3 separate regions of the Homo sapiens genome follow, and regions 1 and 3 are each linked to region 2. Evidence: fine-mapped expression QTL. A gene starts in region 2. Each other region holds a variant in brackets. All regions are shown on one strand. Distances are from middle to middle.

Region 1 (5,598 bases), 90 kb after region 2:
CATTCATGCACCTATTATCCATCTACTCACCTACTCATCTATCCATCCTTCCATCCATCCCTCCTTCCCTCCCTCCCTCCCCACCTCCCTCATTTCATGAGTAAGGCCATTTTAAGAACATCCAAGCTTCTTACTTTTTTAGAAGCTCTATTCCACCTCACATCAAATGCAATAAAATTTACTCATATTATGCATTAAATAAATATACATATATATCTGTATTTGCTGTAAAATTTTGAAGTTTTTAGAGACTTTGCTTTCAAAAATTTTATTTACTCAACCAATATTATTGAGTACCTACTATGAACCGGGCACTGTTCTAGGCATTGGGGACAGAGAAGTAACAAACATTTCAGGTCTTATGGAACTTATTTGGGGTTGAGTCCAACAAATAGATAGAAAATATATACAGTATGGTAGATAAATGTCATGGATAAAAATAAAGCAAGAAATATAAAGAACAAAAGAATGAGGCAAGATTGGTTTATTGTCCATGAACAAGGGTTTTTAAATGGTTGGTTCTGGCCTTTAGAGTGATAAAAGACAATTGAGATTCATCCCAATGGCCTCAAGTTAGATGGTGTCGGTGAGACTGAGGTGGAATGGGGGTCTTGCCAGGAACACCCAGGACCCTGGAACTCACCCTTAACTTAGGGATAATGCTGATGTTTGGCTTTGAGCAACCCAGTTTACAAATGACCATGATTCCTCAGTAATCAAAGTGCACTTCCAATTTACAAGTCTAAAATGAAATAAGGCCAGGTGCAGTGGCTCTTGCCTGTAATCCCAGCACCTCGGGAAGCCAAGGCAGGTGGATCACTTGGCCAAACTCTCAAACAGGAGTTTGAGACCAGCCTGGGCAATGTAGCGAGATGCCGTCGCTACAAAAAAGAAAAAATACAAAAATTAGCCAGGAGTGGAGGCATGCGCCTGTGGTCCCAGCTACTCAAGAAGCTGAAGTAGGAGGATTGCTTGAGCCTGGGAGGTCAAGGCTGCAGTAAGTTAATGATAGCATCACTGTGCCCCAGCCTAGGCAACAGAGTGAGATCCTGTCTCTAAATGAAATGAAATATTTATGAATGCTAAATCTAGATGTAAGGATGATATGGTAGCATGACATTTGTAGACATTAATTAAATATGTATTCGATTGTGGTTTCTATTTGAATCTAGAAGCCAGTACATTTTTCCAAGGTCTCATACATTTTTTGCATGCTCCTGAAAAGCTTGCAAGTATTGTGCAAATGGACTAACTGTCCTTTTGCACAGACTCCCACACTTGGGACAGGTACTCCTGTAGATGTGAAGATGCATGAAGACACAGGCAGCCTTGCCCACAGAGAGCTCATGGTTCATGTTCACAGCTACTCTGGGCTTCTGCATCTATAAAAAAAGAGGTCAGATTCACCCCATAGAATGATTGTGAGGCTTCAACAAGATCACCCCTGGCCCTCACACAGACCTCCAAACCCTCGTGCCTCCATCCATAGTATCCACAACATGTCTTCTCCAAAAGCCACCCACAGTTCTCTGCTGTGCTCTGCCCCTGGCCATTGGCCTCAGACCCATTCTCTAATGGCTCTTGAGCTGCTGTCAGAAAGCCCTACTATCCCCAGCCTTATCACTGCAAATTTCCATTCATTTTCAAGCCTTTTTCTCCTTAGCCTTTCTCCTTAACCAAAGCAGCTTTCTCCTATCCATCTCCCCTCACCATAACATTGTATGGCCAAGTAGGAAACCACGCCTTGTTTTCTGCTGCTTCCCCAGACTGTTACCCACCATTGACACTGAAGGTCACACCATCTGGTCCTGTTACTTTCTCCAACAGGGTATCCCTTTTCTCCTAGTGACCCCGGCACCAGGTCCACTTGTCCCTGACTTCAGGTGATATGGCCGCCCCACCTGAACCCATCTCTCCCTCCCACCAGCACACTGGGCTCCCTCTTCGGCAGCAGGCAGCATTGCTTCCCCAGAATACATCCCAACATCAACCACGCTGTGCATCTGCTGCTTAGTCTCATACTTGGTGGTGGCTTCCCTTTCCTTCCATAACCCACTTATCTCTTGGACAGATCCCCAATCACGTTACTTGTCCCATTTTCACCTGTCCATACATTTTTAAAATATATATTTGATTTCCTTCTTGCGGGGCCTGGAGCCCCTCAGCCCCTCTGATGCTGCCCCACAAATGACCTGAACTCCTTGAAGTTCACCCCTGAGCTGATGCATCCACAGCCCTGGGCTATCTTGTTTTCTTTCTTCTCTCCTGTTCCTTGGCTCCGAATTGGCAGGTGGAGAAAGTTATCATTCCATGCTAAATGGACCGACTACAAAATTGTTCTAACTCTACCACTTCCTTTTGGCAACCTTCTGATTCATTTCTTGTAAGAGTGAGCTTTTCGTCACGCACTGACTGTCTCAATCTTTCCCCTTCATCCTTAGAGTCTTAATCTCACTCCGACTGCTGATTTCTTACAAATTACTTCATCTACCACGTTCTGGAAGCCAATCATTAAGAGCTTTGTCCCAGTCGATCCCTTCTCTGTACTAAAAATACCTCTTGTCCTCTCCAACTCCTAGCTTCCTGGCCCAGATGACGGACACCCCAGGTACTGAAAACTTGTCAGTGGAGATTTCTCAAGTGTTATTTGTGAACTTTGAGCAACCATGGAAAGCAAGACTAGGTATCAAAAAGTGCAGTTCTTTTTGTTGTTTGTTTCAGAGACAGAGTCTCGCTCTGTC[T/A]CCCAGGCTGGAGTGCAACGGTGCGATCTCAGCTCACTGCAACCTCTGCCTCCTAGGTTCAAACGAGTCTCCGACCTCAGCCTCCCGAGTAGCTGGGAGTACAGGCACGTGCCACCATGCCGAGCTAATTTTTGTATTTTTAGTAGAGACAGGGTTTCACCACGTTGGCCAGGCTGGTCTCGAACACATAGCCTCAAGTGATCCACCCGCCTCAGCCTCTCGAAGTGCTGGGATTATAGGCGCAAGCCACTGCACCTGGCCTGGAAAGGGTAGTTCTTATTTTCCAGAGGTCAACAGTGAATTCCCACAACTCTCGGCTTGATGACTTGCCATCAATCACAGGCAAAATTATAGAAACCAAAGGGCTGCTTTATGTTATTTAGAAAATAGTACAGCAATTACTAGGAGTCAATACAAGTTCTCAAAGCCTCATTCCTTTTTTATTTTTTATTTTTGGCAGGGTTGCTAGACTGGTAGATCAGGAAGACGCCATAAATATATTTTATCTGGCTCTAAAGCAAGGTTGTTTTTTGACAACCATGTGAGCAAGTAGGAGAATATAGTCCAGATTAAAGTAAAATCAGGAGGATTAAAACTGGTCAAGTGTGGCCGGGCACAGTGGCTCAAGCCTGTAATCCCAGCCCTTTGGGAGGCCGAGGCGGGCAGATCACAAGGTCGGGAGTTCGAGATCAGCCTGGCCAACATGAATTCTGTCGCTACTAAAAATACAAAAATTAGCTTGGTGTGGTGGCAGGTGCCTGTAATCCCAGCTACTTGAGAGGCTGAGGCAGGAGAACCGTTTGAACCCGGGAGGCAGAGGTTGCCGTGAGCCAAGATCGCACCATTGCACTCCAGCCCTGGCGACAGGGCAAGACTCCTTCTCAAAACAAAACCAAACAAAAAACTGGTTAAGTGTGCCCAAAGAGTGCTAAGTAATGGATTAACCTCAGTCAGAAGGGATGTTTGCTGAAGGCACTATTCTGAGACCTATCCCATTCTTCCAAATTTTGGGGGGTGACAATATAGAAGGAATATTTACAAACATGTACATATATTTGTAAAAGGAATTATGTTCAAGGAAATAATGAGAACCATAAATAACTCAATAGGCAGATTCCAACTAGATGTCTTTGACAGAGAAAATTCATCAAAACATAATATTGACTGAAAGTAGCAAGTCATAGAAAAAACATTACAATAAGATTCCATGAATGAGTTTCAAAATAGGAAGAATCGGTGGTGGCTCACACCTGTAATCCTAACACTCTGGGAGGCCAAGGTAGGAGGATCACTTGAGCCTAGAAGCTTGAGACTGCAGTGAGCTGTGATTGCACCACTGCACTCCAGCCTGGGCAAGAGAGAAAGACCCTGTCTCTAAAACAAACAAACAAACAAAAACAGGTTGAACTAAACAGTGTATTATTTATAGAAATACACATCAGAGATAAAAGATATGAAGAAGAAGCAGATGATTATCACAAAATTCAGGAGAGCTGGGGGGAAGCCAGGCATGTGATTAGGAAAGGGTGCAAATGGGACTTTGAGGAAGGATGGGTGAGTACTGCTCTATTTCCTAACCTCAGAAATATAACATATAATATTTATATTATATTTATATTTATATTTATATTATCCTTGAAAATGAACATATCTTTTCATACACTCTTTTGTGTGTTTGTTACATTATATAGTAAAAAGAAATTTTAAGGAATAAATCTAAAGTTCTATACCATGGTCCAAACCACTGCCCCCTCCAAAAAAAAAAAAACCAGAATAATCTAATCAATACAAAGTGCAGAAAAGACAGGGGATTTAATGGGTGGTGTAAGTCAGAGTCAGGTGTCTAGGCTACATTTGGAGAATTGTCTCTACCCTATTCCTGTGCAGGCCAGCTGGGATCATGGTTGGGTTCATGGCTGGAGTCATGGCTGGAGACCATGCACAGTTCAAGAGCTGCTCCTTCCCTGGGAGTAAGCCAAACAGGGAAGAGTTGGGGGGTCTTGCCCCATGGGATGTCAGAAGCCATCCTCTGTCCGCAGATGCCTGCTTTTCCTGCTGTCTCGTTGGATCACAGAGAATGGGATGTTTAGGGGCAGTCACAGGTGGCAGCTGACAGCTGTCTTGAAACTTTTTAAACTGTCACATGAAAAGATGAATTCAACTTGTACTGTGTGGCTCCAGAGGACAGAGCAGCAGGTAGAAGTCACTGTGAGTCATGAGCTCCCGTCTCTGGATGCATTCATGCCCAGGCTTAGGTCTTCTGTTTAGGGAGTCGCAGAGGTCACAGTTAGGTCAGCTAAGATGACCCTTAAAGTCTCTTCCAACCTCCACAGGCTATGAGTCTATGAAACCTGTGCATGACATGCACAAAGGAAACATAGAAGCACTTTGGGAGCCCGTGGCAGGAGGATTACTTGAGCCCAGGAGTTCAAGACCAGCCTGGGTGACATAGCAAGACCTGCATCTACACAATTTTTAAAAATTAGCTGGGTGTAGTGGTGTGCATCTGTGGTCACAGCTACTCAGGAGGCTGAGGTGGGAGGATTGTTTGAGCCCAGGAGTTCAAGGCTGCAGTGAGCTATGATTGCGCCACTGCTCTCCAGCCTGGGCAACAGAGCAAGACATTGTCTCTTAAAAACAACAGCCAGGCGCAGTGGCTCATGCCTGTGATCCCAGCACTTTGGGAAGCCGAGGCGGGTGGATCACAAGGTCAGCAGTTCGAGACCAGCCTGACCAATGCGGTGAAACCCCGTCTCTACTAAAAATATTTAAAAAATTAGCTGGGCTTGGTGGCGGGCGCCTGTAATCCCAGCGACTTGGGAGACTGAGGCAGGAGAATTGCTTGAAACTGGAAGGT
Region 2 (5,598 bases):
TACAGGTAACCTCCAAGGTGACTATCTCCCTGGGGTTTACAAAACAGCTCTCCTGATCCATGCCCTAGTTGTGGGAGACTCAGATCATGCGGCAAACTCGGAACCCAGATACAGGTGACAGGAGCACATGACTGTCACCAGGCAGGCAATGCCCCCTCTAAACCTCAGTCTCCTCATCTGTAAAATGGGCAGCACAGTCCCTGGGATCCCCCTCTCAAGGTGGTTGTGAGGTTCTGCTGAGATCATGGAGAGAAGGGACTTCGCAAACTGTAAATTTGCCATGGCAAAATGGAGATTAGAGAGAACACAGCATCACCCTTGCTGATCTGATGGGATCTACAGACAGGGGTGGCTGTCCTTGTCCTCTTCTCTACTCCAGGCTTAGGAGACACTTTCTCTTCCCCTCGGGTCTCACCTACTTTACTTCAGCATTAAATAGGGCTTGGGGATGGGGAGATGGTGCTGACTGTGGCATCAGAAGAGACCAGGCTGGCCTGTGCCACTTTGTGGTCCCGTTTCTCCCTGCACTTTTCTTCTCATAACATTCATCCCACTTCTGCACTGCTGCTTGTTTAATTACTGGCTTTCCTAACCAGACTGGCCATGTGACATGTTCCTCACACTTCTGGAGCTTGGGGCAGAGCCTGGTCCCTTGTAGCGAAACCATTTTGGTATAGTCTGGCTGCCCTGTTTGCTTTTGGTTGCTTGCTTGCTTTTTGTTTTTCTGGTGAGTTTTTTTTGTTTTTGTTTTTGTTTTTGTTTTCTTTTTTCCATGAAGCTGAAGGCTACACCACTGAACACTGAAACTTAACCTTCATTCACTACTTTATAGGTAACATTCATAGGCCACCATGGTAATGATCTCTTCAGTTGTTTTTTAGGAACTTGGGCTAGCTCCTGTCCATCTCAAACTGGTGAGACCATTGGCCCTTCAACTGGGCAAGTGCCCCAAGAGGTGGGCTTTCAATGTCGGAGAGCCAAAAAACTCCACCCTTGGATCATGCTAACCCTGCCATTTTCTGCATATATGTCCTATGAAATACCATTAGCTCAGACTACATTGGCATGGAATGAACCTGTTTCTTCATTTGTCCCCACTGCCAATTGCCTTTCCCCATGGCTTAGACCACTCTACTTCCCTAACCCATAAATATCCTTAAGCCTGATCTTCTGGGAGGTGGATTTGAGAGCTGTTCTCCCACCTCCTCTCTTGGTGCCCTTGCCAATAAGTCTTTTTTCTCTTTTCTAAAACCCGTGTCACCTGATTGATTACCTGCAGGGGCAGCTTGCAGGGTGGGCAGATTGGACAGCGGACCTAGACCTGGCCGGCAGCTGGGAGCTCGGTAAATGTTTGTTCAATCAATGAAAAATGACACGTGAGAATCCTGAGTGGCGCTTATGACCAGTCTCAACTCCCTGCCTGCATTCACTTTCCTTGGCTGTCACTGTTTACCCCAGAGACCCCTCCACCAACAAAATCACAGAATTTGATGGCCAGGTGCAGTGGCTCAGGCCTATAATCCCAGCACTTTGGGAGGCTGAGGTGGGTGGACCACCTGAGGTCGGGAGTTCCAGACCAGCCTCCCCAACATTTTTAGTCTCTACTAAAAATACAAAAAAAAATTACCGGACGGGATGGTGCATACCTGTAATCCCAGCTACTCGGGAGGCTGAGGCAGGAGAATCATTTGAACCCAGGAGGCGGAGGTTGCAGTGAGCGGAGATTGCACCACTGCACTCCAGCTTAGATGGCTAGAGCCTCAAAAAAATAAAAATGAAAAATAAATCACAGAATGTGGCGCACTCCAGGCCCAATTCTCTCATGTAGAAAGAAGAGGCTTGGAGATGAGAACTGGATGCCCAAAGTCACTCAGCTCGCCAGGGGCAGAGCCAGGGTGCTCACAGGGTGGCCAACCTTCCACGTCTGCCCTGGACACGGGACTTTCAGTACTAAAATGTGCGGACGTCCTTCTCCCGGACGTCCTTCTCCCAGGCCCTCGACATCATAAGATGGGCGAGAAAAACGTGCAGGGCTAAAATCTGGGGTCCCCACCCCTGCCCCAGCCACTTGGCGGTCCCGATAGTGAAATGGACTAAGATCAAGGAGCTCTCCCGGTGAGCCCCCCCATTGCGGCCGCAGCGCGGGCAGGGAGGACGCCGCGGGAGCCCGGGTTCGAGGCTGGGCTGTGGGGCTGCGGGGGCGCACGGGCGAGGTAGGCGGGGCGCGGGGCCCCCGCGGCGGCACAAAGAGGCCGGCCGCGGCAGTTTTGAAAATACCAAGGAAGTTGATCTGGGCCGGGGCCCAAGAAGTGACGAGGAGGGAGGGAGGCTTGCGAGCGAGGGAGGAAAGGAGGGAGAGGGAGAGGAGAAGGCGGGAAGGAGGGAGGGAGGAAGGGTGCGCGGGGCGAGGGGCGGCGGCAGACCTCGCGGGGCCCCAGCGGGAAGCGCGGGCGGCGGCGGGATGCGCGCTCTGGGCGGCGGGGCGCGGCGCTAGGCGCCCGGCGGGGCTTCCCCAGGCTGCGACCCCGCGGGACCCTCCACTCCTCCCGCCGCCTCCGCAGCCCGCGCGCCGGAGCATGAGTCCCGGCCGGAGCCCCACGGCCGCGGGCGGCGCCTAGGACGGCGATCCGCGCCCTGGAGGATCCGCCGGCCGCCCGGCTCCACTACAGCTCCAGCCGCCTGCAGCGGGGCCCTCCTGAGGCCCCAGAGGAAGAGACCATGAAAGGTAAGGGCGGCCTGTCGGGGGCAGCTCCGAGGGGGGCCGCCTGCACCCCCGCTCCACCCAGGGCCTGGGGGGCGCCTTTTCTGCAGGCGAGGCTGAGAGGAGGGCAGGGCGCCTCTGGCTTTTCCCCTGCCTTTTTGGGCATCCTGCGAGACAGGACGGATCCCTGAAGACCAGAGGAAGCAAAGAGGAGAGGGAGGATGGGGACACTCACACACCCCCCCTTGCAGTCCTGTTCTCATCGGCCGTTGCTCTAACCTCACAAATAATTTTAAAATCCAGAGAAGTTTCTGATCCCTTTAACCAGTAGACGCAGAAAGGCATCACCAGCCCAACTTTCCAGCAGTGTAAATTTCGACCCTGGGGACCCATCAGAGAGGCCCCTGCATCCCCCACCGAGCCTTTCAACCGGGGGCCAGGCCTAGGATTCTCCCCCAGGACCTCCAGCCCTTCCCCAAAAGAGACCTGCAGTGTCAGAGCCCCTCAGCCCAGGCCCTGCCCTTCCCAACCCCTGAACCCTGCCTGACCCACCCTCTGACCTCCTTGGGAGGAAGCCGCCGGGGAAGCCCCATGGGCCAGGACTGACCTCTCCCCAGGGTGGTGAGCCAGCAGCAGGGTGGCCCTTGCAGCCAGTTCTTGGGATGGAAATAAGAACCAGACATGATCCCAAGTGGCCATTTCCAGGGCCTGGGTGTCTTTAGGCCCCTACTTGGTCTTCAAGGTCATTTTGAGGCTACAGGAGAAGCAGGCTTTGGAGTTATCTCATGAGGCAGGGAACCTCCGAGGTTTTGAACGCCATTTCGGGTGTCTTTCAGTAATCCTCCTGTAACACCCCCAGCAGATGCTTGTGTTCCTAGCAGTGAGAACCTCACCACCTCATCTGCTTATGGAAAGTAGAAACTGAAAAGGGCCTTTGAGATCATCTACAGGGCTCTCAACCACACTCTCAGGTGCCACTGACAGGTATGGAGGTGGAAGAGGTGGGGCCAGAGCTCTCAGCCTACTTCAACCAGAGCAGCTCTGTTTGTCTCTCATACAAAGAATGGCCTGAGGGTTCATTGGAAGAAAGGGCTCCACCGACAAACTTCTGACTGGATGCAGCCTCCGCATTGCATAGTTAGGGAAACTGAGGCCCAAGCAGGTAGGGCTGGCTTCATGGCTTCTGCAACCAGTGCCATCCTACAAGGTCCCACACTTGGTTTAATGCTCTGCAGGTGCTATCTTGAACTTTTTAAAAATGTATTTTATTTTGTTTTATTTTAGAGATAGGGACTCAATCTGTTGCCCATGCTGGAGTGCAATGGCATGATCATAGCTCACTGCAGCCTCAAACTTCTGGGCTCAAGTGATCCTCCCACTTCAGCCTCTCATGTAGCTGGTACTACTAGGACTACAGGTGTGCACCACCATGCATGGATTTTTTTTTTTTTTGATAGATATGGGGCCTTATTATATTGCCCAGGTTGGTCTATAACTCCTGGCCTCAAACGATCCTCCCACCTCAGCCTCCTAAAGTGCTGGGATTACAGCCTTGATCCACCATGAGGCCTGAAATTCTTATAATTTTTTAACAAGTCATCCCCTCCCACCAACACACAAACACACACACTTTCCTTTTACACTGGGCCCCACAAATTATGTAGCTGGTCCTGTGGACAGAAGTGAGTTGTTACAAATCACAGTTAGTCAGGGTGACTAGACCCCAGGACTCCTGACTTCTAGTCTAGAATCCACCTTGCCTCTTTGTGGCTTCCTTCCCTCTGCCTCTGGCACCTTCTTTCTGTGCTTCCCGTTGGCCTCCCCAAGTCCTAGGCTCTGCGGGATGAGCCAAGCAAGTTATAATCAGCCCTAGGGAGCACCTGGCAGGCAGTGAGGGGAGCCTCGCCCCAAGTCCTGCTCCTCACTGAGACACCTTTGCAGCTGAACCCTCTGCAGTCAGCTGGCCCAGGGCAGACCATTACTGGAAGCCTCCAGAAAGGTCTTGGACCACATCTTACACGGGGCCACACTGCCCTGGACCTTGATGATGGTGGTGAGATGTTTCACATTCTCAGAGTGGCTCCACCCCAATTCCAGACAAGCACCAGCAGGGTGTGGTGGCAGATACCTGTAATTCTAGCTACTCCGGAGCCCGAGGAGGGAGGATCGCTTGAGCCTGGGAGTTTGAAGTGTAATGAGCCATGATTGCACCACTGCATTCCAGCCTGGGCAACAGAGTGAGACCCTGTCTCTAAAAAAATAGAATTTATTTAAAAAAAGAGGCAGGGCCAAAATCCTGTGAAATAGAGAAGAAAAGAGCTGGTGTGAATGAATATTTAAAAAGAGGTGCCTGAGGAGGACCCGCTGACACCACGTTGCAGGGTTCCAGGCTCTCCTTGTGCTGTGGGTTCCTATACAGGAAGCCAAGCCCTGCCTCTCTCCTCCTTTCCCTTGGATCCCACAGCCTCTTCATGTGCCGAGCGGGATTCCTGTCTACGGAGGCCCTGAGGGCGGCGCTGGTGTGTTTTTCCTCCAGCCTCCGGAAACCCCTCAGTGATCTCCCATAACATCACAGGGGCTGCATGGGCTGCGGGGCTGGGGGCTGACTTCCAGCACTTCCCTCCCTGGCAGCCGGGAAGAGCCGCCCCTCTACCAGAGATGGAAATGGCAGGGCAGACAGCAAATAATTGGCTTCCGGGATCTGTGGGGTGTAAAGAACCAGGATTTTTCTCACTCGAGTGGAAAAAGTAAAGTGCCCGGCAGAGTAGGGCAGGCAGCCCCTTCCAGAGAACCCTTCCCGTGCTCCTCCAGAGGCCACACCAAACTTCGAATTACATCTGTTGGCAAAGGATCATGCCCTGCTCAAAACAAACACGTGATGTGATGTGATGTTGTAT
Region 3 (5,598 bases), 380 kb after region 2:
GCTGTTAAAAACGTAACTGCACATCCCTGATCCACATACACAGTCTGCTGCTTATAGGAGAACTTCTCAAGTTTTAGGGTTCTGAATTATAAGGTCTCCAAAGCATAGAACACATGGGGTTCTAGAACTTGAATTTATGTTACAATAAAGCAGTGATTAAAAAAAAAATACTCTAAGTCTGAGCTCTACTCCCAGAGATTCTGATATTGGTGTCTGGAGTGGGATCCACTTGGGCATGAGGATTTCAAAAAGCTTCCCAACTGCTTTAAAAGTGCAACCGAGGTTGAGAACTATGCCCTAAGATACACACAAATACAGCAAATAAATGCCATTATCAAAATTATAAGAATGGAGCAGTCTCAGTGAGGTGTAAAGAAATGTGTGGCTAAGCACAATCCTCCATTGTCATCAATCCCTGCTTTCTGATGTTGGCTCCACCCAACTGGGCTTGAGTAGGAATCTTTAACTCATCTTGAACTCTTTCTAAGACACTAGTAGTTCCAGAGTTTTCAACAATTCTACCAGGTTTTTATAAACTTCTTTCTTTTACCACAGGTTTTGATTTCTCTGAGACAGAGAGAGAGAGAAAGTGAGAGAGGGAGGGAGGGATGGAGAAGGAAAAGAGAAAGAGGGGAAGGGAAGAGAGAGGGCAAAGAGAGAGACAGGAGAGAGAGGGAGAGAAAGAGAAAGGATGGGGGGAGAGAGAGAAGGAAGAAAAGAGAAAGAAGGAGGGAGAAAAGGGCAAGAGAGAGGGCAAAGAGGGAAGAGAGAGGGAGAGAGAAAGGGAGAGATGGGGAAGAGAGAGGGAGAAAGATAGAGAAAGAAGGGGGGAAAGAGAGGGAAGAGAGGGAGCATGGACAGAGGGAAAGAGACAGACAGGGAGGGAGAGAGGGGGAAGAGAGAGGGCAAAGAGGGAAGAGAGAGGGAGAGGGAGAGATGGGGAAGGAGAGGGAGAAAGAGAAATGAGGGAAAGAGGAGGAAGAGAGGGAGCAAGGACAGAAGGAAAGAGAGAGACAGGGAGGGAGAGAGGGGGAAGAGAGAGGGCAAAGAGGGAAAAGAGGGAGAGGGAGAGAGAAAGGGAGACATGGGGAAGAGAGAGGGGGAGGGAGAATGAGAAGGAAGGAAAAAATGGGAGGGGGGAAGGGGCAAGGAGAGAGAGACAGTGAGAGAGAGGAAGCAGTTGCCTTGGGCCCTGAGTCTCAGGCAGCAGTGACAGCTTCCTCCCTACCAGCTAAACAGGGCCTTTTCTTGTCTTCTAGCTTGAGGCAACATCTGCCTTTCCTCCCCAGTGGTGCCATAACAAAAGCTCATGGCCATATAACCCGTCAACTTGTCTGTCCTCTTTCCAGCATCAAGAATCCACGTTTCTTCCAGAGGGAAAAATAAAAGAAAGAACTTTTATAGACACAATGCAGCAAGATTTGAAAATATAGACTTAACATGGTTTTGATCATAGAGGGTATCTAGAATGCAGACACAATGCAGCAAGATTTGAAAATATAGACTTAACATGGTTTTGATCATAGAGGGTATCTAGAATGCCGTCCCATCCAGATTTCAGAGATCAATATCAATTTTCTCTTTGTCCCTAATCAGATCACAGTATGTGGTTGAGATAAGTGGGGTGTATTGAGTTATGGGGTGGTACTCAGACAGAAGAAAAAGACACAAACTCATCTTATTCTGGGCAGTTCAATTGGAATGGAAAGAAAGGGAAAAGGAATGAAGGAAGAACCCAAGGTCAGCTGCTAACGCTGCCTGCACATGGTATGATGCCTTCAGAGCAAATGATAACATGGCGCTCTTTTCAATGCTCTCCTTGGCATGGAGATGCTGATGTTGTATTTTAATAATATAATAACACTTCAATTAACCAGCCTTACAGCCATGCTCCACAGACAACACATTCCTTCATGTCATCTGGTGCTTTTTATTATTACACTTTGGATGATGTGTCCTCAACAAGGATCATTCCTCTCCTTTCTTAAGCAGAGCTTATTGGTTATAATTTAACATTGGAAATGAGCAAGAGTCACCATTTATGATGATTGTAAGGTACTTGTGCAGGATGAAAGTGGCATCTCCCAAGGGAGAGACCGGGGATCAGAAAGGAGCTACTCTAAGCTGTTATTTATCTAAGCTGCACCACCCCGTGGAGATGGATAAGACAGGGCCCATCTCTGTTTAAGTGGTGGCTTTAGTGATATCAGCCCGGAACAGGGTGGAGAAGAGGCCCCTTAGCAGGATCATGCCGAGAAACAGGGTCCAAGAGTAAGCCCTCCTCATACAGGACGAGGCAGTGTTGTGTCCTAAATGATAATAATAATTGCTTTGGAGAGATGTGCTTGCCCACAGATAACCTACAAAGCCACAGTTCTTGCTGGAGATGCTGAAGCCATGGGATTAGAGTCCATTTCTCCCATGTCAGAGTTGACAAACCTGGACAGAGGAGGGTCTCCACTGATTTTTGGCCAAAGCCTGAGCTCTGGAGTTTTCCACTGACAGATGGAGAAGGGTAGAGTTCCCAAAGCAAGGGGCGTGGGGATCCCGGGCAGGAGACCTGCAGAGGGGCTGTTAGGAGCAGAGACAGTGAGCGGTCAGGAGAAAGATAGCCTTGGAAGGTCTCAGCCTGGGAGATTCCTCTCCTTAGCCACAAGGGCCCAGGCTCTTGTCCTCCCCTGCTGTGCAGGGAAACAGCCACCTGGCCCTTCGGTGGTTCAGCCAGACTAGGGAGACAGAGAAGCTTGAGATGGGAAGGTATTTGCTTCCTGATTGCCACAGGCTGAAATGCAGTTAAGCGTCAACCCCATTTCTCCCCTCCTCCACCCACACTTAAAAAATATCTTTGGTCGTGCCACCCTGACCCCTGGAAGCCATAAACAGGCGATATTCCAGGCCAAATGGCTGAGAGACTTGTCACTGATTGTCCTCAACCTCCCTGCCCTGCATACTCACCTCCTGGGCTACAAAAGATCACCCCTCAGGGCAGAAAGTGAGGGACTCTTCTCTGCACCCACGATAGACCGTGTGGGTCTTTAGTTTCTAGTTTCCTCCCTCATTGTCAAGCTGTCAGTGTTTTTTTATTATTATTCTTATGAAAAAGGGACAGGGGGCACTGATGAGGTTGTTTTAGCCAAAGATGCATAGTCTAAACCCAATCACGAAGAGACATCAGACAAACCCACATATTATAAAACAGCTGGCCTGTACCTCTCAAAAATGTCCATGTTATGAAAGGTAAGGAAAGGCTGAGGAAATGTTCTAGATTAAAGGAATCAAAGAGACGTGATAAATACATGTAACACAGCATCCTGGGCTGGATACTCTACTGGAAAATGTTGGCAATACCGGCTATAACTAGGGCAACCGATGATATTTGAATGCAGATTATAGATAAAATGATAGTATC[T/A]TACCCATAATCAATGTTGAATTTTCTGAATTTGATCATCATACTAGGGTTATGTGAGAAAGTGTACTTGTTTTTGGGGAATACCCAAAAACATTAAGGGATAAAGGAACATGACATATGCAACCTACTTTGAAATCATTCAGAAAAAGTATGCACAAAAAGTATGCACAAATAGACACACACGGACAGGCAAAGAATGATACAGCAAAGCAAATGTAGCAAAATGTCAACAAGTTGATACAGTGTCTGTAGGAGTTCTTTGTACTATTATTGCAACTTTTCTGTAAGTTTGAAATTCTTTTGAAGAAAAAAGAAAAATATCAAAAGAAAGTGATGGGGAACTCCAAAAGAAAAGATCATGGAAGGACCCTTTAAATAGAAGCAATTCATATAGAAACTAGAGGAGTTAAAAAAAAAAAAAAAAGAAGTAAATAGAAGCAATTCAAATAATAGGAAAAATGTTCAACACCACTAACAAACCAAGTAGTGCAAGGTGGTACTTTTTAAAATCTCATCCCATTAACCTACTGCAGAAAAGGATAACAACCACTTTTGGTGAGGAATCAGTGACACAGGAACTCTCGTCCCTGCTCGTAAATGGACAGTGTTTCTGAAAAACAACTTGAGACTTTAAAATGCTTTTAGACTCAGACCTTGTAATAGAATTCTTAAAAACTTATCCAAAAGAAAAAAAAATCAGAGCTAGGGACAGAGATTTATATCTAAGCATATTCTCTATGATGTTATTTACAATGGAGAAAAACAGCATGATTTAAGTGTCCAAAAATAGCACAAAGGATAAATAAATAACACGTGTATATAGGAAAATACTGTGTAGTCATTTAGAGCTGTGTTTCAAAAAAACATTGTTTTCCCTGGCACAATCCTGCCCACCTCCCAACCTTCTCTCACTCTAGCCAGTCCACCCCTCTTTCCTGGGAAGATGAACCTGCTAGGACTTCAAACTCACCACGGAGCCCTTGGGGCACATTAAGGATCACAACAAAAGACTTTTGCTCGCAATTTTAACCTATTGATCCAGCAGCCCTTTATCCTGAATCTCCTGCTTCTGGTTCCTGAATCCTCTTGATTCTACCCTTGGCTTTTGAGGTTTTTCTTCTTTTATTGCATTGGTCTGAATTTCTGTCCTGGATTTATGTCAGTATCAGCCTGAAGCCTCTCACCAGGACTCAAGATGTTGCCCCAGGTTCTTCCCCTTTTGCTCCACTCTGCCAGTGCAGCCTTCCTGACTGACAGCTCTGCGTTGCATTCTTCAGGCAGTTAACACACAGCCCCACTGCCAGTGCCAGCTCTGACTTTCTAAGCTCTGGCTGGAGTTAACTCCTTGGCTTCCGATACCAAGGAGGTAATTTTATTTGGTGAAAACTAAGATTTGGAGCAGAGAGATATAAATCTAACACGATCTTAGTCCACAGCCCTCACTTGTCTCACGGGTTATTTAGAAGTGTGTTGTTTGGTTTCCAAATATTTGAAGACTTTTCCAGATTTCTTTTTGTTATTGACTTCTAATTTAATTCCACTGTGGTCAGAGAACATACTCTGTATGAGTTCCATATTTTAAAATTTATTGAGACTTATTTTATGACTCAGGATATGGTCTATCTTGGTAAATGTTCCATGTACACTAGAAATTAATGTGCACTCTGATGTTGATTACAGAGTATTCTATAAGTCTCAATTAGGTAAAGTTAGTTGATACACTGTTCAATTCTTTAATATCCTTACTGAGTTTTTCTACTTGTTCTATCAGTTATCAAGAGCGGGTATTGAGATTTCCAACTATAATTATGGATTTGGCTATTTCTCCTTTGAGTTTTATTAGCTTTTGCTTTGTGCATTTTGAAACTTATTAGGTGCATAACTAGGATTATTATGTCCTCTTGATGAATTAACCACTTTATCACTATGCAGTGATGATCCTCCTTATCATTAGTAATATTCCTTGCTCTGAAATTTACTTTGTCTAATATTGATATAGAAACTCTGTCTTTAGATTAGTATTTACAAATATCTATCTTCCATCCTTTTACTTTTAACATATTTATGTCTTTATATTTAAAGTGGGTTTCTACCAGACAACATATACTGAGGGCTTCTTTTTAAAAAATCTAACTTGGTAACCTCTGCCTTATTTAATTAGTGTTTTACACCATTTACATTTAATGTGT

Evidence for each region. PIP is the estimated chance that this variant, and not a neighbour inherited with it, causes the effect.
Region 1: its variant is fine-mapped to the expression of SCARA3 in thyroid (GTEx, PIP 0.91).
Region 3: its variant is fine-mapped to the expression of SCARA3 in esophagus muscle (GTEx, PIP 0.97).

What each region holds. Positions count from the first base shown.
Region 1 is chr8:27,721,034-27,726,631 of GRCh38, forward strand. It overlaps a transcript of SCARA3 not described here. Among named protein-coding and RNA genes, the nearest start is that of MIR3622B, 22 kb to the left of the region's middle. The variant T/A (reference allele first, on the strand shown) is at 2,742.
Region 2 is chr8:27,631,483-27,637,080 of GRCh38, forward strand. SCARA3 (scavenger receptor class A member 3) reads left to right here and starts at 2,420. Exons shown (of 6, transcript NM_016240.3): 1 at 2,420-2,725. The coding sequence starts at 2,719. RefSeq lists enhancers at 2,054-2,883, 2,884-3,712.
Region 3 is chr8:28,012,277-28,017,874 of GRCh38, forward strand. No RefSeq gene overlaps it. Among named protein-coding and RNA genes, the nearest start is that of SCARA5, 22 kb to the left of the region's middle. The variant T/A (reference allele first, on the strand shown) is at 3,410.